7 linked regions of the Homo sapiens genome follow. The protein of the gene in region 6 purifies or fractionates together with the protein of the main gene of each other region. This does not show direct contact. Each region holds a gene or a part of one and is shown on either strand. Other genes may lie near its edges. The genes, in order: TUBB1, UBR2, PLS1, PPM1B, ERGIC2, CRHBP and PRR4.

Evidence for each region.
Region 1: the proteins of CRHBP (region 6) and TUBB1 purify together in Homo sapiens (affinity purification with mass spectrometry; 3 studies listed by BioGRID and IntAct, with this or other methods). This does not show direct contact.
Region 2: the proteins of CRHBP (region 6) and UBR2 purify together in Homo sapiens (co-immunoprecipitation; 2 studies listed by BioGRID and IntAct, with this or other methods). This does not show direct contact.
Region 3: the proteins of CRHBP (region 6) and PLS1 purify together in Homo sapiens (affinity purification with mass spectrometry; 3 studies listed by BioGRID and IntAct, with this or other methods). This does not show direct contact.
Region 4: the proteins of CRHBP (region 6) and PPM1B purify together in Homo sapiens (co-immunoprecipitation; one large-scale study listed by IntAct). This does not show direct contact.
Region 5: the proteins of CRHBP (region 6) and ERGIC2 purify together in Homo sapiens (affinity purification with mass spectrometry; one large-scale study listed by BioGRID and IntAct). This does not show direct contact.
Region 7: the proteins of CRHBP (region 6) and PRR4 purify together in Homo sapiens (co-immunoprecipitation; one large-scale study listed by IntAct). This does not show direct contact.

What each region holds. Positions count from the first base shown.
Region 1 is NC_000020.11:59,024,792-59,027,154, forward strand, and holds the end of TUBB1 (tubulin beta-1 chain), read left to right. Parts: 3' UTR 1-1,863; downstream 1,864-2,363. UniProt on the Homo sapiens protein: Tubulin is the major constituent of microtubules, a cylinder consisting of laterally associated linear protofilaments composed of alpha- and beta-tubulin heterodimers.
Region 2 is NC_000006.12:42,672,029-42,675,528, forward strand, and holds part of UBR2 (E3 ubiquitin-protein ligase UBR2), read left to right. Parts: intron 1-1,762; coding exon 1,763-1,859; intron 1,860-2,097; coding exon 2,098-2,165; intron 2,166-3,500. UniProt on the Homo sapiens protein: E3 ubiquitin-protein ligase which is a component of the N-end rule pathway.
Region 3 is NC_000003.12:142,669,393-142,672,892, reverse strand, and holds part of PLS1 (plastin-1), read right to left. Parts: coding exon 3,340-3,500; intron 1,901-3,339; coding exon 1,771-1,900; intron 1-1,770. UniProt on the Homo sapiens protein: Actin-bundling protein. In the inner ear, it is required for stereocilia formation. Mediates liquid packing of actin filaments that is necessary for stereocilia to grow to their proper dimensions.
Region 4 is NC_000002.12:44,227,875-44,231,972, reverse strand, and holds the end of PPM1B (protein phosphatase 1B), read right to left. Parts: intron 1,981-4,098; coding exon of another isoform or gene 1,972-1,980; exon of another isoform or gene 1,561-1,971; coding exon 1,255-1,560; 3' UTR 501-1,254; downstream 1-500.
Region 5 is NC_000012.12:29,340,013-29,343,172, forward strand, and holds part of ERGIC2 (endoplasmic reticulum-Golgi intermediate compartment protein 2), read right to left. Parts: coding exon 3,108-3,160; intron 1,805-3,107; coding exon 1,722-1,804; intron 1,207-1,721; coding exon 1,144-1,206; 3' UTR 1-1,143. UniProt on the Homo sapiens protein: Possible role in transport between endoplasmic reticulum and Golgi.
Region 6 is NC_000005.10:76,963,045-76,966,507, reverse strand, and holds part of CRHBP (corticotropin-releasing factor-binding protein), read right to left. Parts: intron 3,166-3,463; coding exon 3,048-3,165; intron 1-3,047. UniProt on the Homo sapiens protein: Binds CRF and inactivates it. May prevent inappropriate pituitary-adrenal stimulation in pregnancy.
Region 7 is NC_000012.12:10,846,676-10,850,674, reverse strand, and holds the start of PRR4 (proline-rich protein 4 isoform 2 precursor), read left to right. Parts: upstream 1-1,199; 5' UTR 1,200-1,237; coding exon 1,238-1,301; intron 1,302-2,267; coding exon 2,268-2,303; intron 2,304-3,307; coding exon 3,308-3,612; coding exon of another isoform or gene 3,613-3,630; intron 3,631-3,999.

The sequences.
Region 1 (2,363 bases), on a different chromosome or scaffold from region 6:
GAAGCTGTGCCGCGGAGTCGCTTACAGAACAGTTTCTCATTAGATGAGTGTTTCTCCTGCAGCACTCCAAAACCCACTCTGCACTGCAGCACAGTGAATGATATGCACTCACCATTAGCTTCGACACAGGGACTGAGGGAGACAGGTGGGGAGCAGCTGACAGGCATTAGGGTCTTTGCTGACATCTACTAACCTTGAAGAGTTTGATGTTCAGTGCATACTTATTAACTTAAAAAAATAGCAAATTTATTGTAAAGTGCTCCCTTTGTTTCAAAGTGTTTGCCAGGCATCCAGACTACACGTGTGGATTTGCAGGGAGCCACTGGAGTTGGTGTTACATTTTTATACTTTAGCAGCACTGATAGGCACCCTGGAATCCTCACTTGGTATCCGAGGGCTACTAAGACTCTTTCCTTAGGTTCTTTCCTCTGAGCAAACACTGACTGGCATCCTGCTTTCCAGTGCCTGCCAGCCTCCAGAAGAGCCAGGTGCCTGACTAGTACATGGGGAGCTACAGAGCCAAGGTCAATGTGAGTCAACATCCACTAGAAATATCCATGTTGTGTAGACCTGTGCATACAACATGCTAACTGGAAAAGAGGAAAAAAGAAAAGCCACAGTCCTCTCCACAAAAATACCTGGTCCAAACAAGAAAAACAAAAAGACAAGCAAAACTAAAGAACTGCAGTCTTCTGATCTTTATTTCTGAAGAGCTAGCCTTTAACATATATGTTTATATAGTTTAAATTTCTTACTACTGTTAGATCCCAGGAATTCATTAATAATCATCCTTGGCTTTCCTTTTAAAGGCTATTTTGAAATGGTCTTTTCACTTTCATTCAGTCATCACCCCCCAAAATGCTCTGCAGCCTCTCTGCTCTTTGAGAAAGGGCACACCATGCGCTCGGCAACCATTCAAATGCAGGAATTAAGCAGCAATGGCTGCAGTGTCCTTCTCAGTTATGGAGGACATCGTCTCATTAGGGAACTTTTACAGTTCAAATTAATTTGCAGAAGTTGCCATAAATGTTTGCATAATGACATAGCTTTAAGCACTACATGATTTTAATCTGCTCACATTATAACAGGACCAAATACACAAGAGCGTAATCAAATCATCTGTAACTTCTTAATTACAGTTTACCTATTTCTGACATGCAGCACTGCCATCTCTTCCAGCACCATCAGGGTTTTAATGGCCCTCTAGAATTACCACTGAGATACACTATTTGATCCATGGATAACCGGTAATGGGAAAATGCTCCGACCCTCAATGCAGTAAATATTTACTTGCAGGCAACTGGGTTCTCATCTCTTGATTTGCTTTTGTAATCAGCAATAATAAAATAGCAGGTAGATGGATGACAGTTGCTCATTCTGAGAAACTTCACTCTTTTCACTTATGCATCACGAGGAAATAACTAAAATACATACCAAGAGAAAAATACCTTGCCATCGGATCATCAACAAGTCTTCTATTTACAAACTTCAAAAAACACAAAACAACATTCATGTTTTAAATGCTTTCTACTTGTGGTTCAAGAAGCACTAGATTTAGTAAGAAACTCTACCTATATACTTAGTTTGAAGTTAGTAACTTCCTGAGATGCTAAAGACTTACAGCCTGCGATTATACAAGGATTTACACATGCTTCCTCTGGTGCTTTACTTCCCAAACCTAAAAAAGCAATGAAATAGATGTAAGGAAGGAGGGATTTAAACCTTTTAAAAAACTTTTGCTGACTTATATTACTGTAAAGATTTGTTTGCTCAATAGTAATCATTAAACTACAAAGTAATTCAATTTTAAATGGCAAAATTGCTTTATTTCAGACTAAATAAATTCCTTTTCTTGAAGCCTAACCATCCAGACTGAGTAGTTAAAAATATTTAGAAATGCATCTCACCATCCTACTCTTTCGTATGGTAGAAATAGATGTAAAAACACAAAACAAACTAGAAACTTAAGAAATCTGTCCCTTTTGATTTTGAAGAGCTTATCCTTTAGCAGTACGGTTGCTCCAGCGACCTTGGTCTCTCAGAGCAGCAGCATCACCGAAATTTAGAGCTTATCCGATTCCTTCACTTTGCTCACAAGAACGATGTGAACTAAGAGATTAACTGACAGCTTCAAACATCATCCAACTAATTAGTGGGATACTCATTAAGTTGGTCTGACTGGGGTCACCTCATCACTGGGCACAGTCATCCTGCCAGCTACCCAGCACTGCTGGAGGCAGGAAGTTTATTATACTACTGGTTTAGGATTTTTTTTTAATCACGGAGAAAAGAGCCTCTAAGAATCTCTGCTGACAGTAAACTTGTCTTTTACTCAGTGACTTCACTCCTTTCCATATCACAAG
Region 2 (3,500 bases), on a different chromosome or scaffold from region 6:
AAAATTGAAGTCTTTTTTTTTTGAGATGGAGTCTCACTCTGTTGCTCAGACTGGAGTGCAATGGCACAATCTCGGCCCACTGCAGCCTCTGCATCCTGGGTTCAAGCGACTCTCCTGTCTCAGCCTCCCGAGTAGCTGGGATTACAGGTGCATGCCACCGTGCCCAGCTAATTTTTGCGTTTTTAGTAGAGATGGGGTTTCACCATGTTGGCCAGGCTGGTCTCAAACTCCTGACCTCAGGTGATCTGCCCATCTCGGCCTCCCAAAATGCTGAGATTGCAGGCATGAGCCACCATTCCCGGCCTAGATACATTTTTTAGCCTGGGCATTCACATTCAGTTGGTCAGCAGAGTCTGACAAATTCTCACCATTCCTTCTTCTACTTGTTTGGTTCAGCCCCATATTATTTCTTGCCTAGATTATCATAGCAGTTTTTACCCAGAATCTCACTCTTCTCTAATACGTTATTAGAGGGGCTCCTCAAAAGCAATCCTGTTCATATTCTTCATACTTTTACAAACTTCTTAACCTATTTCTCCATTATCACCTCCTGCCAGTTCCCACCCCTGTGGTCCAGACTTGTAGAATCACTGCCAGTTCCTCAATGCTAGTTCCCATGCCTTTGCACATTCCATTTCCTCTGCCTAGAGTACCCTAAGCAGACTGCTACTCTTTCAGATGCTGTTCAAGCTTTCCCTTCCCTTAGAAAGCCCTCTGAACCATGTACTGTGAGTTAGAGACCTCTCATCTGTGATGCCTGCCTCCTTCCCCACTTTCTTCCTTTCCCACCCCAGGACTTTAAGCTCTTTGAGAGCAGGAGGGGGAGAATGGGTTTTATTTGAAGATCTTCAGAACCAAGACCTAGTGTATATAGTAGGACCTCAATATTTATTGAACCAAACATTACAGAAAATTTGGAAAATGAAAAAACAAGCAGGAAGAAAAAAGTCATCAACTTATCACATACCCATCTTTTTCCATTAGCATATTTATGCTTGATTACAATTGGTACTCACATGTAGCTTTGTTTCTGCTGTATTCTTTAAATCAAGAGTTTTCTTATTACTGCTACTTAGTCCTCATAACAATTTTTAATAGCTGCAGGCACCCTCATTTGTACCACCATCTTCTTAGACAGTTTCCCCAATATTTGGAGTATCTCTTTAGGATACTCTACATTTTACGGAAGAGTATCCACATTTTAGAGGATCTCTTTAGGATAAACATAAGAGATATGTGTTTTAGGGTATCTGTTTAGGATAAACATAGAGAAATACTGCATCCGCATCTTGGCTTGTTTATTTGTTTTTTGAGATAGAGTCTCGCTCTGTTTTCCAGGCTGGAGTGCAGTGGTGTGATCTCAGCTCACTGCAACCTCTGCCTCCAGGGTTCAAGTGATTCTCCTTCCTCAGCCTCTCGAGTAGCTGGGATTACAGGTGTGAGCCACCACACCCGGCCTGCACTGGCATCTTGGGAGTGTCCCTTGCTTTCTGTCAGATGCGTATATTCTATATTCTTTTCTTTTCCAGAGAAAACCAGCAACATGGTGGCAAAGAGATAGATTTCATTTATTCAGCACACACTTAGACATTTCCCATTCCATTTATCCTGTGTTAGAGGCATGTCATTGAGATGTCATAGATCTAGTTCCATACCATCTAGAGCAGTTTCATTGTGCATCCAGCTGTGCTCTGAACTAGCATTCCTGAAAGAGAACTGCTTTGCATTTTTGTTTTTTGTTAATTGCGTTGGTTTATTTTAGGATGACTGTCTTAGGTCATTGACGAGATTTGCCGCAGCACACTGGACAGTGGCATCAGTTTCAGTGGTGCAAGGACATTTTTGTAAACTTTTTGCATGTGAGTATTAATACATTTATAACATGTTGTAATTTTTCATCCTCTGAAATTTTGTTTTTAATGGTACAGCTTCTCTCAGTAATGAATTAAATATTTAGTAGTACTGGTTTTCTTATATATAAGCTCTAGCTTATAAATTCTCATGTGTCTTGCAAGAAGATAAATTTAAAGCAGATTATATGCATTTTAACATGTTGGCATATGAAATATGCTAATGTATTTCTCTTTAAATCTGTAGCACTGGTGCCTAATGACAGCCATGAGGAACTTCCATGCATATTAGATATTGACATGTTTCATTTATTGGTGGGTATTGTGCAGTTTGTTTGGACTTCTACGTCATACTATGTAACTTTACCTTAGGTTTGGTGAGCAGTGTAGTGGCAGACAGGAAGGAGTTATGTGATTTCCTTACCCCTTCTGAGTATAATTCTTTTATGAGAAACCTCAAAAAGAAAATATTTAGGAACCTAGTTGAGAGACTTGACCTGGTTATCGAGACGTCCTCTGACTCTTATTTTGCTTTATGGCTGAGGTTAGTATTTTAACCTCTCTGTGCTTTTAACCTGTAAAGAGATAAAAACACCAGCAACGGGTCAGGTGTGGTGACTCATGCCTGTAATCCCAGCACTTTGCGAGGCTCACCCCAGATCACTTGAGGTCAGGAGTTTGAGAGCAGCCTTGCCAACATGGTGAAACCCTATCTCTACTAAAAATACAAAAAATTAGCTGGGCGTGGTGGCACATGCCTGTAATCTCAGCTACTCAGGAAAGTGAGACAGGAGAATCACTTGAACCCAGGAGGCGGAGGTTGCAGTGACCAAGATTGCATGACTGCACTCCAGCCTGGATGACAGAGCAAGACCCCATCCAAAAAAAAAAAAACAGCAACAGAAGCACTGCTGCTGGCCCATACAGTGCTTTTGTACATTTTCGAAAATCTGGCAGATACAGCCCTGTGGTCACACTACTTAGCAGCAGAGAGCCCCTTATAATTCAGGGAAAGGTATGTCCTCTGAGCCAGGACATCCTAGTGCTAAGACACACAGCTGTCCAAATAGTGGGTAGCCAAATTTCAGCCCTACCTCAACTGGGTTCCCTTGCACAGGGTACAGAGTGTACTGCCACACCCAGCAGCCCCGAGTGCTGTGCCTTTATTCTCTGGACCTCAGATTCTGCCCCTTTAAGTTGGTTAGTACCTACTTTATATGACTATGTCAGAACTCAGTGAGTTAATCCATGTAACACACTTAGAGCAATATATTCCTAATAAATGCGGCTATTACTGTTCTCATTGCTGCAACTAAAACCACCACCACTTATACTGCCATGCAGACAGCAGGAGGCCAACAGAGCTAGCATTTGTGTACCTGCCAGCTTTTACATACGTTCACACTTACATCTCTACAATTTACATGTAACATATTGTCTTTAGTTTACCAATAGGGAAACTGAGGCCTGATCAGAGATATTAATTTGTGTAAAACAGCTCATAAGAGGAGGAGGTAGGATTCATATCTAGATATTTATGGGTCCAAAACCCATGTTTTTTCAACTGCCTACAGTCCTGGAGAGAGTTCAGATACTGTTTTTGTTAACAATAAGCTATGTATAGAGGACCCACTGGATTAATGAAATCAT
Region 3 (3,500 bases), on a different chromosome or scaffold from region 6:
TCTTTGGTGTAATGAAAGTGTTCTGAAATTAAATAGTGATGACAATTGCACAACTATGAATACACTAAAAACTACTGAACTGTATACTTTAAAAATGTATTCCATGGTATGTCAATTATATCTCAATAAAGCTGCTATTTTTTATAAAAGCCATTAAATATTCCATATATTTTTCTAGAGAATAGTTATATAGGTGTATTCATAGGTTAAAAGAAATCATCAAGCCATATACTTAAGAATAGTACACTTCAGCCTGGTGTGGTGGCTCATGCCTGTAATCCCAGCACTTTGGGAGGCCAAGGCGGGTGGATCATGAGGTCAGGAGATCGAGACCATCCTGGCTAACACGGTGAAACCCTGACTCTACTAAAAATACAAAAACATTAGCTGGGCGTGTTGGCGGGCACCTGTAGTCCCAGCTACTCAGGAGGCTGAGGCAAGAGAATGACGTGAACCTGGGAAGTGGAGCTTGCAGTGAGCCGAGATCGCACCACTGCACTCCAGCCTGGACGACAGAGCGAGACGCCATCTCAAAAAAAAAAAAAAAAAAAAAGTACACTTCATGCACTTTACTACAAGTATCTTATACCTCAAAAAATAAGTAAACAAAAATTTATGGTGACAAATATCAGAAAAGAGGTTACCTCTAGGGAAGAATAGTTACTATCAGGGGAATGAGGGAGTCTTCAGGTGATGAAAAGATTCCATGTCTTGTTCTGGTTGGCAGCTACATGAATGTATATACACATGGAAAAATTCATTGAGCCATATACTTAAGATTATAGCACTTTGCTGAATGTGTATTATACCTTAATAATTTTTTTTTGTCTTTAAAAAGAAGCCACTTCAGTAGAATTGACAGGCAGAAACTGGGTTAAGGGGTGAATACCTTTCAAAAAGTGAAGGTAACAGTTATGGACCTTTGCCTTTATGGCTGCTTCCCTAGTGGGAAAAAGTTAGGAAAAACATATAATAGATGAGAGAAATTTGAGTGTATCGCTAGAGGAAAATCCAATTAGGAAGGGACAGAATCAAGAGGATAATTAACAGATTCAGATCTGAAATGAAGAAAGAGGGGAAAAGGTTACAGGTAATTTTGTCAAAAGGCCAAAAAGCATAGTTCTAGTTATGTTCATATAAATAAAAAGAACTTGGCCAAAGGTTCTTAGACATCTTAGATAACTTAACACGGGGAAGACACCTCATCTTAAAAGTTGATATGCTTCTGCATTTCCCACTGGGCAATGGTCCAGTGGTTTAATCAGATCAAGCAAATCAGGTGCTATGCTCTCTAGTCACTTGGTTACTAGATAAAAGGTGAATCGGGTATCTCAGATCTCAGAAAATGGAAGAGAAAAATCCTTGTGATAGAAGCCTCTCCCCCATTCCTAGCTCAGGTCTAAAAGTAAAGCCACCTCATCAGTCAGGATGAAAAGCCATTGAAAAGCCACTTTTAAATACATCTAATGCTGGAGTATAAACAACTTCCACTTTGTTGTTTATAATCTTGTTTCTGTAGACTGAGCCTGATACACAGCAGGAACTCATTGATTTCAATGATTCTAGGATTTTTCATTTTGACATCTGTGAAACTGAGATGTATTTCAAATTCAATGGCATGTTATACTGTGGTCTGCAGTATTTTTTTCTCCTCAGTGGCACATAAAATAACGGTATGAATCACAATGAGTGGCATCTTAGAACTGATTAAATATGTCACTTAATCAATGAATCAGTGACTAAAAGATCAAATTTGGAGAAGTCAGTTACCTGAATAAGAATGCTGTGTGCCCTCACTGGAAATAGTTGAAGTTCCTCCAATAGCAGTAATCCCTTCCCTCTTGTTAATTATTTTTCGGAATGTTTTGCTGATATCTTTGCTTTTTAATTCTTGCATTAGCTGGAATGGAACATAAGTAAAATTGAGAATCAGATAATCAATAAAAACCTGACAAAATGGATATTTATTTACACTTCTTTATTTGAAATGACACCAAATTAAATACTAGTCAGTTGTACTTATTGCTTGTATACACAGATAACTTTCATCATTTTACCAATAACACAAAATAGACAAATACTTGAACCCCAAACGGTGGAATAAATTTTTTATAACTAAGCTTAAATTGAACACACTGAAATTATTCTTCTTGGCTTGCCATAATCTTTTGTACTGAAAACCTAAGAAATAACTAACTACATGCTAAAGATAGAAGAATGCCTTAATGAAGATATTTTCCTGCCTGAACATCTCAAATGCATTCATGATAAAATAAGTCAGCTCTTAGAGGAAATAACATAGGCTTACAGAAACTCCCTTTCCCAATCACTCTCTCACTGGACTCACCAGAGATTGGCAAGACTCAATTCAATCAGTTCTGCTTGCAGCAAAGTGATTGGGTTTTTTTTTAAATGCAAATCTGATCTTGTCACTTCACATTCTATTCTTCCCACTTCATTGTCTTCCTATTGCTTTTAGGATAAAAACAAAAATTCGACATGGCCCTGTGTGACCTGATTCTGAGTTACTTCTCCAGCTACATTCCTTACCCTTACCATCTCAGCTCCAGTCACACAAACCTTCTTTCAGTTGCTTGAGAATATTCACCATCTCTAAAGCCACAGGGACTCTACACATGCTGTCATGTCTACCTGCCTCCTACATTATTCATTTTCCCACAACCCACTTTTATCTGTTTAACATCTTTCTTCAGAACACATCACAGTCTTCACACTGTAGGGATACCTTCCCTGAGTCCCTGGGTTATCCAGCCTTGCCTCCAAATTCAATTCCTTCTACCACAAACTCTCACAGGACCTGTACCACTCTGTCATAGCAATTCTCCAATTATCTTTTATCAATTTGTGCAATGCAGTCTTCTCCACACATATAAACTCCATGAAGACAGGAATCACGTTTCTTTTTACTCATCACATTACTCACAGTGCCTAGCAAAATTTCTAGGAAGAGAAGAGCTAAAATACCTGCTTAATCAATAAAGAATGCAAAACCAGACAATTTATATTTCATAAATATTTATTCAATTATATTAATGGTCAATAAGCATTGAACTCACCTAGTTATTCTAGGGAATGAATTACTATTATCTAAACCTGATTTCCATTCCAACAATTTGAGAATAATTTTTTCCTTTGTTTTATGAATTAGTTGTGGAAATTATTTCGATAATAATAGTTATTGTCATCATCATCATCATCATTTTAAAGCAGTCCTTTTTCTGGTCTCTGAAGCTGGATTTAACCAAAGCTAGTGATGACATTACTACAATTCTGCTCTAAGCAAGATTATCAGTAGCCCGAAAGGATTAGATTACTTACTGACACAAACTCTTCAAAACTGATTTTGCCATCTTTGTTGCTGTCAGCAACTGATAGAATTTTCTCCACAATCTCGCGCACCTTGTAGCCAGGCAGAGGAAGGCTTGCTTCCTTAAACAGGTCTTGAAGTTCATAGTCACTGACATACCCACTATTGTCAA
Region 4 (4,098 bases), on a different chromosome or scaffold from region 6:
ACACATGATATAAATATAAACGTAAAGACGAAAAGTTAATGTTCTACAGTTATAAAATAATTTTTAAAAAATATTTTTCCCTATGTGACAAATCTATAATTTAAAAATCCCTTTAAACAAAAACTCTCATCTGCCACTATTTTAAAAATAGCCCATAATTGTTCAATTTCTTAATAACTAACAAAAATTTGTAACAAAATGGACAATTCTGCAATCTTTAAAATGCTCACTGTGGCAATTTTCTCACATGTCTAATGTGTGCCCATAATGTCCAAAGATTAATATTTTGTACCACAAAAGATGGATAAGAAAAAGAATAGATTTAAGTATGCAACACATATATTTTAATATTAAACTTTTCCTTTTTGTTAATGAAAAAAGGTAAGCCAAAAGTGTTCTAAATGTTATATAAATACAAATGAATTTCTAATGGGTATTCTTCCAATATACCAAACTTGGTTGTTTTTAAAAAATTAATTCAAAAATAAGTACAACATGCATAGATTATTCCACATCACATGCTTTATTTGGACTTAAACACTTATAATTTCATTCTAAACACTTGGTTGACATACATTTTGATGTGTGTAGTTAGGCTATACAGAATATACAAACCAAAGCTGTATGAATAATACATAGGTTTTTCAAAAGTTATGTTTCATAAAGAATACAGAGAAAGGAAAAATAGCCACACATCCAATATCTCACAACTTCTAAAAATAAAACTACAGAGATGTAAAATATAAACAAATCAAACAACACACAAATTATCATCCTTGAAAGAAAAATTACAGGCCAGCATCAGCCATTCTTTGAAGAACTAAAATTATTAAAGAAAACATAAATTTATTACAAAGCTAACTATGAGTGTACTAATAGGTAAAATAATATGAAGCAGTATAATTCTACATTAACAAGTTTTTCCATAATATAGCATAATCTCTCTAATCAAAATTTCTAATTCTATCTAGTATTAATTTAACTACTGACTTTAATTCATAATTGGTAGCCTAATTTCTGGCATACAATGTGAAATGACATATAATTTCATTAAATCCATAGTACTATAAATAGTCAATTTTACACTATCTCATAAAGGTGTATGCAAAGGCCTTTTTAAAAAACAAGGCTATCTGAATATAATAAAACTAGTTTTCCAAGATTCAAATAACAAAACAGTTATATAAATGCATACATTACACTTCCTAGGTTAAAAACCATCAAAGATCACAAAAATATTACCAAAAAGGAAAGTCATATTTTTTCACCACTCATCTTTGTCCCTGCATCTTCATTAGAGCTGTCTAATTCAGCAAGACCACTTTCTGATTCAGTATGGCTTTCCTGCATTGTCACTGGGTTTCCAGCATCACTGTTCGAAGAAGTAGCTGTGGCAGCTGGTTCAGCAGGGCTTTCTTCTCCCTCTACTTTAGCTAGCCTGTAACTAGTCAGCATCTCCTCCAGAAGTTGTCGGTAGTTTCCCCTATGATTAATTCTCATTTGCCTGAGAGCTTCCACCAATTTTCCCTGTGATCCACTTTCCTCTGCTTCATCGGAGGCCTTTTTTTAAGATTCAAGACCCCAGTGTCAGTAGACAAACTAGGATATCACATGTATTTCATAACACATTACAGCAAAATACTAATTTCTCTACCGAAAAGTAATATAGTCTAAGCATGAGAACATTTTATTAAATATCAATTCTTACCTGTATCAATTAATAAAAACTTCCAATAATAATCTCAAGTCATTTTAAGCAAATTACCATTAACTAGTTTATGTCTTATTTCACAGTCATTTAAAGTTTAATCTGAAATTTACTCAGCTTTTATAATTCAACAGCAACACAAGCATTTCCTAAAACTGACTTACTTAAACAATATTTGGCTATATGATTTAGTACAAAAGAAAATCAATGTTTAAAGCAGTAGGAAAAGGACAGAAAAGCAGGCCATCAGAACAGTTTCTTCATCATTTCTGCTAAATAAGTAGGAAATACAAAACATAAAACTATATAGATTTAAACAGATTTTTGAAAGATTTTAGAGTTTTTACGGATAAAAATTGTATTTACTTTTTGCTCTTATTTTGATAAAAACATCTCTAGATAAAAATAAATTAAGTATTCTCAGTATGAATAATAAACTACTCAATCCTTTCATATTTTAGTGAATTTTGGAAAATCTACAGGTTTCTACAATAGTAACTACTTAATACTGTACAGAACAAGCTCTAATCATCCAAGCTGATCACAGTTAAGCCGACAGACTAAAATAAAGATATCTTTACAGTATGTGCCTCTTGATATGATGCATTATAAAGTACAGTCATGTCCTGTATTCGTGCCAAAAAATGTTTAGAATGAATCTAATAATGCTAATTCCCAGTTTACAGGAAAAAAGGGAATAGAGGATCAAGTTAGAGCACACATGAGAAAACAATCATATGAATTCAGAATGCAGGACGTATTGTAAAAAACTGGCTCAGATTCTTCAAAGTCAGTTTCAAGGGGAAAAAAACAGGTGAGGGGCTTGACTGATTAAAGACTTGTTTAATGTGCTTGATTGATAAACTTGATTAGACTGGGATTCAAAATAACAATTACAATAGTCACTCTAGTGACAACTAGGGAAATTTAAACTTGATATTCAATATTATACAATTTATTTTTTTATACACCTACAGTGTACCCACAAAAATTAAAAATAAATTTAAAAAAATGAATTTTCTTAGGTATAATAATGGTATTATGGTTATACAGAAAAATGTCTTCGTTCTTTTTTTTTTTTTGGGATGGAGTTTCACTCTTGTTGCCCAGGCTGGAGGGCAATGGCATGTTCTCGGCTCACCACAACCTCCACCTCGAGGATTTAAGCGATTCTCCTGCCTCAGCCTCCCGAGTAGCTGGGATTACAGGCATGTGACACCATGCCCGGCTAATTTTGTATTTTTAGTAGAGACAGGGTTTCTCCATGTTGGTCAGGCTGGTCTCGAACTCCCAACCTCAGGTGATCTGCCTGCATCGGCCTCCCAAAGTGCTGGGATTACAGGTGTGAGCTACCGTGCCTGGCTGAAAAATATCTTCATTCTTAAGAGCTGCATGCTTAAATGTTTACAGGTAAAATATGATGTCTGCAATTTTCTCTCAAAGGGTTCAGTCAAAGAAAGAAAAAAAACAGTAGATATAAAAAGAAAAATAAAGCAACTATGGCAAAATGTTAACAGTTGTTGAATCTAGAGAGACAATATACAGCTGTTCCAACATATCATATCCCCTTTTTAAATACATTTGGAAGTTTTCATCTTAAAATATTGGGAAAATAAAATACAAAATAGGTTATTGATACAGTTGATGTGACACAAACTCTTAACCATCTTTAGAGACTATTACATATACTTTTGCAACAAAGATAACACTAATAAAGCCATATAATAAATGGCAATGTTTTATTAGAAAAATGAGAGCAGATGAATGTTATTTTTTAAAAAGTTGCCCTCATTGGCCAGGAGCAGTGACTCGTGTATGCAATTTCACCACTTTGGGAGACGGGTAGGAGGATTCCTTGAGGTCAGGAGTTCTAGGCCAGCCTGGGAAACACAATGAGACCCTATCTCTACAAAAAATGTTTAAAAGGAACACGCCCATAGTCCCAACTACTTGGGGAACTGAGGCGAGAGGTTGAGCTAAGTCGAGGAGGTTGAGGCTTCAGTGACCCATGACCATACCAATGAACACCAGTCTGAACGACAGAGTGAGACCCTCTTAAAAAAAAAAAAAAAAAAAAGGGCTTGTTAGGCTGAGGCGGGTGGATCACGAGGTCAGGAATTCAAGACCAGCCTGGCCAAGATGGTGAAACCCTATCTCTACTAAAAATACAAAAAATTAGCAGCACGCAGTGGCAAGTGCCTGCAATCCCAGCTACTCCGGGAGGCTGAGGCAGGAGAATCGCTTGAACTCGGAGGGCGGAGGTTGCAGTGACCCGAGATCGCACCACTGCACTCCAGCCTGGGTGACAAAGTGAGACTCTATCTCAAAAAAAAAAAAAAAAAGAAAAGAAAAAGAAAAAAAAAGTGCTTGTTTTCCTGCCTCAGACGGGG
Region 5 (3,160 bases), on a different chromosome or scaffold from region 6:
TTTAATCTTTTATAATGTGAAGATTTAGAACCAATCCTTAAATAGTAAGAAAGTTAGAACACAATCTAATACAGAATCAATCATATTCAGGACACCCTGAATGCAAATACTTCATAATACAGTTTTATAGTTTAATGGACAATGTTTAACATGGCACCTCTCAAATCTGATATATCTTGTGGTGCTTACAATTTGCCTTACACTTTCATTTAAAGTTACCCTGTTCTCCACTCACCACATGTATAAAATATCCTATTTTTTCTCTTAATGTTTTACAAACCGGTAATTTTCACTATCAGTAGCGGATCTTTTTATAACTCACCCTATGTTGCCCAAAATACACCAATAATATAATGATTAGATTAAAAAACTTGGCATCTTTTTTAAAAAAATGTGCTTTCTTTTCCGTGTATAAGATTCTACTATACCATTTGTGAATGACACCCTAGTTACATAACACCTACATATCTGCCCCTGTGAGAATTTACCTTAGTCTTCTAAGACTCTATCTTCAACAGTTAGATAAGTCAATAACCAGAGTTCAAAGAAAAGTAGTTACTTTTTAAGACCAAATTATTGGATAACTGGTCTTGTCAATATGGCTTAACATTAATATGGCTATAACATAGGGACTAGCCCGTTTTTTTTTTTTATTAACAATGTGACCTGATCACAATTCTTTAAAGTCTAGACTAGTTTTCCGTATGTTTTCCACATTTTATTCTGACATCATATCTTTTAAAAACAAAAGGATGCGAACATTTGCACTTCTCAATGTTTTTTTTTTTCCCATAGATGTAGTTTCACTTATTTCCTTCAGGCTTTTTATCAGCAAGAAGCAATGTCTGATTTTGATACCACCCATTTGCTATGAAAATATAAGAAGGCGTCATCTTCAAAGCAACACTCCAGTTGGGCTTCTTCATCGTTTAGCTGCATGATTTCTTCTACGACATTTGTAACAGACACAACGTATATAGAATTTCAGTTTGGGTTTTTTTATCCTTTTTTTTCTTTTTTAAAATAAGTATGTTTTCTGCTTATTTGTGTTTTCTTTTCTTTGAATATATTGCACAATATTTTATTATTAAAAAAAGGTTTTATGTCTCAGGCAAAAAGTTTTTCTCCTTCAATCGGGAGGTGTTAATGTGTATTATTTTCTAAAAGAGGTAAGTGGTTGTCTGTGTGGCCATCCTCAAAAGGAACCTAAGGAGAAAAGGAGGGAAAAAAAGACCAAAGAATTAGTTTTATTCCTTATACTCTTTCCTCTAAACACAAGGTTTTATTTTGGGCAATCCTTTCTAGTAACCAAAAGCTACTATTTCTCTCTCTCTCTCCCCCTATTTCTCTATCTCTCTATCTCTATCTTTTTTGAGGCAGGGTCTGCTCTGTCACCCAGGCTGGAGTGCAGTGGTACGTACGATCATAGCTCACTACAACCTCAACTTCCTGGGCTCAAGTGATCCTCCCACTGTGCCCTCCCAAGTAGCTGGGACTACAGGCTTGCACCACCTTGCCTAGCTAATTTTTTCTATCTTTTGTAGAAATGGGGCTCTCACTATGTTGCCTTGACTGGTCTCAAACTCCTGGGCTCAAGCGATCCTCCCGCCTTAGCCTCCCAAAGTCTTGGGATTACAGGTGTGAGCCACCATGACTGGCTCATAGACTTAACAATGATTCTAAGATTTAGAGATCAGCACCATGTATACTACACCACTTACAGAATTGACAGGTTTATAGGATCCAAGTCTGAAACGACAGCAAATTATTTCAACTATAAATTTTCCAATTCCATGTAACATGCCTGTAATAAACAATAAGTTTATGCTTTTAATTATTTCCTAAACTGTTATTTAAGAATAAATAACTATAATGGAATAGATTACGGAAGAAAACAAAGCAGTTTGCATTATTCACTTCCATGGTTAAAAATAATCAAGAAAGATTTTAAAACAAATGGATTTCTTTTCAAAGTCACAAGGCCACATAATTCACGATCTCAGCACAATCTTTTTTTTTTTGAGACGTCTCACTCTGTTGCCCAGGCTGGAGTGCAGTGGTGCAATCTTGGCTCACTGCAACCTCCACCTCCCAGCTCAAGCAATTCTTGTGCTTCAGCCTCCCAATTAGCTGGGATTACAGGCATGTACCACCATGCCCGGCTAATTTTTTATATTTTCAGTAGAGACGGGGTTTAGCCATGTTGGCCAGGCTGATCTGGAACTTCTGGCCTCAAGTTGATCCGCCAGCCTTGGCCTCCCAAAGTGTTGGGATTATAGGCATGAGCCACTGCACCGGGCCTAAACACAATCTTTTCAAGGTTTTCCCACACCAATACAATTTTGGAAAATAAATGATGTCAACAACACAAATTTAAATAGATTGAAATGAAGCACTAACAAAGAATTTCGAAAGAAAAGCTATTCATTCATTTAAAAATATGATTCTAAGTATAATAAACTACCCAGCTCCATCTAATACTGAATAAGGACTGAAGATGAAAATAGAATTGTTTCCTTTTTCTCTATTGTACTTAACTCCCAATTTTCATCATTACAATTCGACAAATAATCTTAGCGAATTCCAGGATCTCAGGACAAAAATCATAAACATGTTACTGATTACAAATCTAGTTTCATGTATTGCATAATTCAAAGTACTATAACATATGATTTTACATACTGTACAGTTAAAAATGTCTTAAATGCCTTCTAGGCATTTTCATATTTAATCCTATAGCACACTTGCAAATTAGGTATTATTATTGCTATTTTTACTGATTAGAAAACCTCAGAAAAGGTAGGTGATCTATTCCAAGCTACCACCAAGTAAATGACAGAACTTACATTCAATTCTACTTCAATCTGATGTTAACACCCAGGATCTTTCCAACTCACCATTATATAATCTACCTTACATCATTGAATACAATGAAATTAGTTATGTTTACTGGTTAGTCAATATAATTTTGGAGTTTTGTAATTAAAGCAAAAGCTATTTAAACACCGAAACATGAAAATCTGTATACTTCTTGCCCCTTTGAGAAGAAGCAACTTAAGTATAAGCAACACTTTCAGAAATTAGACAAAAAGGAAATGGTTGTTAACCTGTTGTTGAAAAGATTCCTCCAACAATACCACAGAGTCTTACAAAAAACTGC
Region 6 (3,463 bases):
GACGGATCAAAGGCTAGTCTCCCTACAACCCTCCCCTTCCACCACATCTCACAAGGAAAGGGAGAGTGCCTTGTACTGGCCGTGGAACAAGCATGGGCTATCTCTTCATCTGCATAGGGTGCCAATTCACCTCAGCCTTTACCCACAAACCAAATCCTTCATCCAGATAAAGGGTAATTGATAGGAACCTCAAAAGGAGCAGTGGCTCACACCTGTAATCCCAGCACTTTGGGAGGCCGAGGTGGGCAGATCACCTGAGGTCAGGAGTTCGAGACCAGCCTGACCAACATGGAGAAACCCCATCTCTACTAAAAATACAAAATTAGCCAGGCGTGGTGGCACATGCCTGTAATCCCAGCTACTCGGGAGGCAGAGGCAGGAGAATCACTTGAACCCAATAGGTGGAGGTTGCGGTGAGCCGAGATCGCACCATTGCACTCCAGCCTGGGCAACAAGAGTGAAACTCCATCTCAAAACAAAAGAAAGGAGTACTTGAAACCCAGAAAACTTTTGTAACCGGGCCCTTGAGCCGCTCGCTAGGGTCCACTCCCACCCTGCGGAGTGCTTTCTCCCTTTAATACATCCCTGCTTCGGCTACTTTGTTCCTGTGTTTCATTCCTTTGTTACTTTGTGCGTTTTGTCCAATTCTTTGTTCAAAACGCCAAGAACCTGGACAACTTACACTCAAGGCCCTCCTTCCAGTAACGGAATAAAGTCTAAAATGAACCAAAGAGTGATATAATTCAAGCCTTAAAATTGTCTTAAAAGTGGTTTCAGTTACCTAGGTAATGTAGGCAAAAGTGGTTTTCTGGCTTTAGAATCACCTTTTTTTCTAATTCAAGTTATATCACTCAAGCGGAAAAATGACTTTGGCTTCAATTATCTAAATTGTAAGGCCTGATTGTTCTTTAATCCTTGTCTTACTTTTTAACCCAGCTGAGGTATATCTCCTCAAAGGTGCTCTCCAATCATGAGCATGGAAGTACTTTAGTGCCTCAGATCATGCACCCAAAAGGCTAAAGAAGCCGCATGCACTGACAGTTTAAACCATGGCTCAAGTGTCAATTAGCATTAGAGAATCCTCTAGTTTTCCGCAAAGTGGGATTTTGGAAATCTTTTGCCTTTACCTTGATTAGAAAGCTTGCTTTGAGCCCACTCCTACCTTAAATCTCATCTGAAACTTTTAGAATATAGGTGTATCTGGGGGAGGGTGGAGTGCATATCAGGCTTTAGTGCTGACTTTTGTATAATTCATCCTTTGGTATCCTCAGGAGATTGGTTCCAAGATGCTCCCCATCCCACGGATACCAAAATCCACAGATGTTCAAGTCCCTTATGTAAATGGCTACCTTTTACCTTTACCTATTTCCATGTAAACTACACACATCCTCCCATATACTTTAAATCATCTGTAGATTACCTATAGTACCTAATACAATGTAAAAGCTATGTAAATAGTTGTTATACTGTATTTTTTTGTGTGTTTTTTTTTTACCTGATTCTTTTCTTTTTTTTTATTTTATGGGGTGTGGTCTTGCCATGTTGCCCAGGCTGGTCTCAAACTGCTGGGCTCAAGCGATCCTCCTGCGTCAGCCTCCCAAAGTTCAGGAATTACACTGAATATATATATATTTTTTGAGACAGAATCTCACTCTGTCTAGTCTCGCTCTGTCATCCAGGCTGGAGTGCAGTGGCACAATCTCAGCTCACTGTAACCACCACTGCCCGGGTTCAAGCAATTCTCCTGCTTCAGCCTCCTAAGTACCTGGGACTACAGGTGTGCACCACGATGCCTGGCTAATTTTTTTATATTTTTAGTAGAGACGGGGGTTTCACCATATTGGCCACGCTGGTCTCGAACTCCTGACCTCAGTAATCTGCCCGCTTCGGCCTCCCAAAGTGCTGTGATTACAGGCGTGAGACACCGCGCCTAGCCTACGCTGAATATTTTCTATTACAATTGGTTGAATCTGTGTATGGGGAACCCACAGTTAAGAAGGGCTGACTGTATGTTAATTCTATTTTGGAGATGTTTTGTCCATCATCAACTCAGAGTCAGAAAATACTGGTGGTCTGGCCTGGTTTTAATTATTACAGGTAACAGCTGATCAAGAGGACTGTCTGCTTTGCAGCTTCATTGCCTAGCTGGTTAATGATCTGCAGTGACAGGAGAGGAAGGAGGCTACAGTAAGAATTAACTGAGATTAGAGACTGCTGTTCTTCTTCTGTTTTGTCTCGTTAATGTTAATCTAGGACTCCTGTGTCTGAAGTAAAGCTATGGGAGTGACCTTTACAGGAATGTTTTATGACTCCTCTCCCCCACCTCCCCGAGACTTCATTGAGTTATCTGGTCATGAGGTCATGAAGTCCCATCCATCCTCACCTGACATGAGCATAAAAAAGTGAAAATACTCACTTGTCTCTGACATAGATCTGGTTCTATTTGGCATATGCTGTGCCAAATAAACCAGTCTTCTATTACTGGTGACCGCTTTTAGATTTCAGAATTTACCTCTGTGTTACACTGGCCTTTGAGAGGCTAGTTTAGCCATAAGAAGTTATAGACTTAGCAGTTCTAAGAATTTCTAATAAAGCTTATCACTTTGTTGTTTATTTACTATGAGTAACACACACACATACATACACATACATAAAAAACAGTTATTTCATTATTATCCTATTACTAATTGATGATACATCTACTATTTGAACCATAAGTGTTTCAGTTAGTAAACTCTTTAGTCTCTAGAAAATGAAAGCAGAGACCCCCAAGAAAATGGAAAGAATGCAGATTTTAAAAGCTTTGTCTTTTTCATAGTTTTACTTAAGGCCAACCTTTATTGCTTCAAAGGTTTCTCTCCCAGTGTCGGATATTTTGGTAAAGATACTGATGTTATATATAGCCTCAAATCCTCATACTGGCTCAGTGTGAAAAATTGAAGGCTTTTTTGGCGAAACTCACCTTCCAATGTAGAAAATATTAGGGGAGTGCTTATTTTTTTTTAATCTTGATAGGCACATACATAACAATCAAAGAAATACCTCACCCGGGCCATGAAAGGGGTAGCAGAGATCAGCTAAAGGCGTCATCTTGGAAGGGTCCAATCCAGTTCCTCCCAGCAGCTCCACAAAGTCTCCTATTCCCTCGCAACCTGCTGAGGATTTCTAAGGGAATAAAGCAGCAGAGAAAGACACATTTAAACCAATTACAGAAGTCAAACCATTTGACCAACAGCGGGTCCATGAATTCACTCAATCAGCCCTCAACATCCTGGCAATACCATTTAATTTAACATCTGGGACTCTGGAAATTAAAAGACATTTAAAAGAGAAAAAATCATAAAAATTGCTTTTCTAAATCAGTTGAGTAATCATTTTTTTTAGAAATGTGTGTACATGTTTTTTTCATTTTTTTTAAGCTCAAGGACTGGAATGATAAAATGGAAATCTGTAAACTCCATAT
Region 7 (3,999 bases), on a different chromosome or scaffold from region 6:
AGAAGAAAGCAAGCAAAGAGAAGTACAGAACCTTGTTTAGAAAATCAAATAAAGATTTCTCCCAGAACGCATGAAGAAAGCAGTAAGATATAAAACATAGACATAGGGAGGATTGATTCACAATATAACATATCAACAAGTAAGGTTCAGCACAAGAGTGAAGAAGAATGAGTATAAGAATATTGCAGAGAAAATAATCTTTGGTAAAGGCAATCTGAGAAGCAAATAGAATGGAAACTAATTAAAAAATAGAAAATCAATGTAATACTTGAGGCTTTCAACAGGCTATCATACTATCTAATTAGATTGTATTATTGTGTCCACTCAATAACCAGTGTGATTAAAATATTTGGTACAAGAAGTAAGACCTAAACTGAATCATATAGAACATTCTAGAAAAGAGAAAGATCATGGAAGAAGTCTTAGGGACATAAAATAGCATGGCTTGTTCAAGGAACTGTGTATTCACACTGTTCTGATGCAGAAATCTAATGGTGCTTTCTGTGGCCAATTTTGCCTTACTAACCTCCAGGGTATTAATAAAGATAGAATGTTTTAATACCTGTGTTCTACAACAATAAAGTATCTCTGGTTAATGCTAGATTAGGAGAATCTTAATCTCTTTGGGCCAGAGTAGCCTGAGGGTAAAACTTCTGTCATCCACGTGTGCCCAAGTGTGTGTTGTCCTCACACAACTCAACATTAAACAGAAATGATCTCTATATTATTATGAAATTAAGCTACATATCATCCATATAGGTATATATGCTATAAAAATGGAATTTATGCTACACTAATAGCTAGAGATATTAATCATTTTCACTTCTGGCTATAAGATCACTGCTGACAAACATATACAAACGTAAGCACGTGTGCACACAGACAACCAATGAAGGGGAAAGACTAACTGTCTAACCCAATTGAAAATCAAATGATGACCAAACTTCAATTGTAGTATTTGTGCTGATTGCTTGGATACTGTTTCTTCAGAAACTATGCTCAAGTCACAGTTTGTACCTAACCACATCCTACCACCACATCCTGCTGGGCTAAAATCCCAAAAAGTAATAAGAGACGCATTCAACTTTATGAGAGGAAAGCAAAACCTAATCTTTCAGGTGGTGAGGTCCACCCAGTATGGAGCTCAAAGGTGCCATTGTTCTGCTCATGTTTATAAAGGGAGCTGCCATGTTTCTCTCAACGCAGAGTTGGGAGCAACTCCAGAGCCTCCTTCAAGATGCTGCTGGTCCTGCTCTCAGTGGTCCTTCTGGCTCTGAGCTCAGCTCAGAGCACAGATAATGGTAAAAAAATTATTTTTTTAAAAAAGGAGATGGGGAGTGGGATGAGGGGCCATGACTCTTCTAGGGCCTCAGGGGTTCACCCTACACCACTGCAGCGGAAGAGCAGGAGGGGAGGAAGGAGGTTGAGAAGAAGGGTAGGGCTTTGGAGCTCTCATTCCAAGGATGACATCTGTTGTGCCCTCATTCCATGCCAAGGCCTTATACTTTATTTGATATACACTTGGAACCCAATAGAGAATTTCAATTAGAGGAATGACAAAGTAAGATTTGTATTTTTAGAAAGACCTGGCTGTGCTGTGAAGGATGCAGTGGAGAATGCAAGACTGATCCAGGGAAGTCCAGCTATGAAGATGCTACAGTAATCTCAGTGGACAGCGATGATGGTGTCCTTGCTGTACAGGGGATGCAGAATCAATGAAAGAGATAAACAAACATCAGAGTACTGTCAGACATAGAGGACTGGATAATACATTTGTGTCTTTCTACATAGTGGTATAGAAATATCAGGTCCCCAAATTCCCATTTTTCTTCCAATCACATTTAAAATTTCAATATGTTGCAGGCAGCATGTGTAAGATTATATCCAAATATTTACTCCTGGTTGCTCCTCTTGGGCAAGCTTGTGAATATGATCAAAATATTTAAAGAAGGAAGAAGGTAAAGATCTAAAATATGACATGAAAATACCCAGAGAAGTGTGCCTAAATTAGCATTAGGGTTTGAGGGATCCTAAGGATGACAAAAAGGGACTCTTCTATTGAATTCGTGGTTGATGCTCAGCGATAGTAACAATCCTGCCTCCCCTAACATCTTCCTCCCCTTCCAGCAGCTTCACAGAACATGGTTGATGAGGTAACTTAGGGGATGCACAGGGTGTGGCCAGAAGACCCCTTTCCCTATAGACCACTATGAGCCCTGAAAGATTTATGAGGTAATGTTCACTTCATCCTGTGCTTCTTTTCCTAGATGTGAACTATGAAGACTTTACTTTCACCATACCAGGTAAATCCCAATGATCCTCAATCCAATTCTTTTCTTTCTTTTTCCACTAGAATTTCTTTTTAGTTTCCTTCAGTGTCTTCTTCTCATCATTTTTTTGGGAGGAGGTGGTAAGAGGGGTCAGGCATTGATTAATATTAGTGCCCCTAAATATATAGGCAATTCTTACCCATCTTTGATTCTGGGGACCATGAGCCAGGCCACCAACTTGAATACAGAGATGCCTGGCTTTGAGGACAATAGGAGTGGGCAGGCTTTTTTCCCAGGCTGGAATGACTGCTGAGAGATGATGAACAAATGAGAAGTGTTCTCATTCTGACTCCTCCATCCTTAACTGCTTCTTTCTTCCCCCAGTGTTCCCCCGCACGGTTATGTGGCTTCAGGGAGTAACACAAAACAAAACAAAAAAATCACTGCATGAATGTCTTTTCTCTGTGTTGACCCACTCAGCTGTGTCACTACAGATGATAAATAGTTGCCACAGCTGTTTAGTGATCATGTGCAGGCTTTCACATTGTCTTTCTCTTCTGTCTCTTAGTATTTCTCTACTTGGTTCCAGGAGCCTGGGAAATCAGCTCTAGTTTCCACATAGGGCTTAGGTGCCCAGAGATGGAGTCACAGTTTGTAAGTCATTACAGCAACCAAAAAATAAAAATAAAAAATAACCAGTAACATAACTGAAAGCTATAATGCTTTTGCTTTTTTTTTTTTTTCTGTCCTTGGAGACATCCTCTGGCAACTCTAAGATATGCAAGAACCCCTCTTTTCATTTAAGGAAACATACTTGTCACAGGAGCAAATAAATGAGACTTTCCATATCACTCTTACATGGATTAAGTTGAGAGCTGCATAAAAAGAAAAAAAAAACAGTGGGCACAAAAGAAGTTGACAGTCAAGCAGCAGGTTTGGGGAGAACAGGGCTGTGTGGTAAGGTGAGAGAAGTATAAAGAGAGGAGAGTTTTTCTTCACTGAGCTCATGCATTCTTGTCCATTAATTACTCACACAGATGTAGAGGACTCAAGTCAGAGACCAGATCAGGGACCCCAGAGACCTCCTCCTGAAGGACTCCTACCTAGACCCCCTGGTGATAGTGGTAACCAAGATGATGGTCCTCAGCAGAGACCACCAAAACCAGGAGGCCATCACCGCCATCCTCCCCCACCTCCTTTTCAAAATCAGCAACGACCACCCCGACGAGGACACCGTCAACTCTCTCTACCCCGATTTCCTTCTGTCAGCCTGCAGGAAGCATCATCATTCTTCCAGAGGGACAGACCAGCAAGACATCCCCAGGAGCAACCACTCTGGTAATCTAGAATTCAGTGGCAGGTATGATTCCAGTTCATTCTCCATTAAATGCCCAAACTGCTACCATTCCCAAACTTTATCGTGTTCACAAATCAATTGGAAATATGTTGAAATTACATAATCCTGGACCCCATTTCTAAAGATTTGTATTCAGATATTCTTGGATAAGGTTGCAAGTCCTTGTATTTTTAACAAGTGGTTCAAAGAATTCTTATCTTTTGAAATACTGACCTCCCCAACTTTTTTCTTAAGATGACTTGTCTCATTAAAATGAGTTGGTAATGAGGAAGTGGGGTGTGCTCTCCCTTTGGTGCTCTGCCTCCTGTCTTTGAGTCTGCCTTCTCAAACCCAAGGACTCTCCATCTCAGGTTTCTCTCAGGTTTCCGCCAG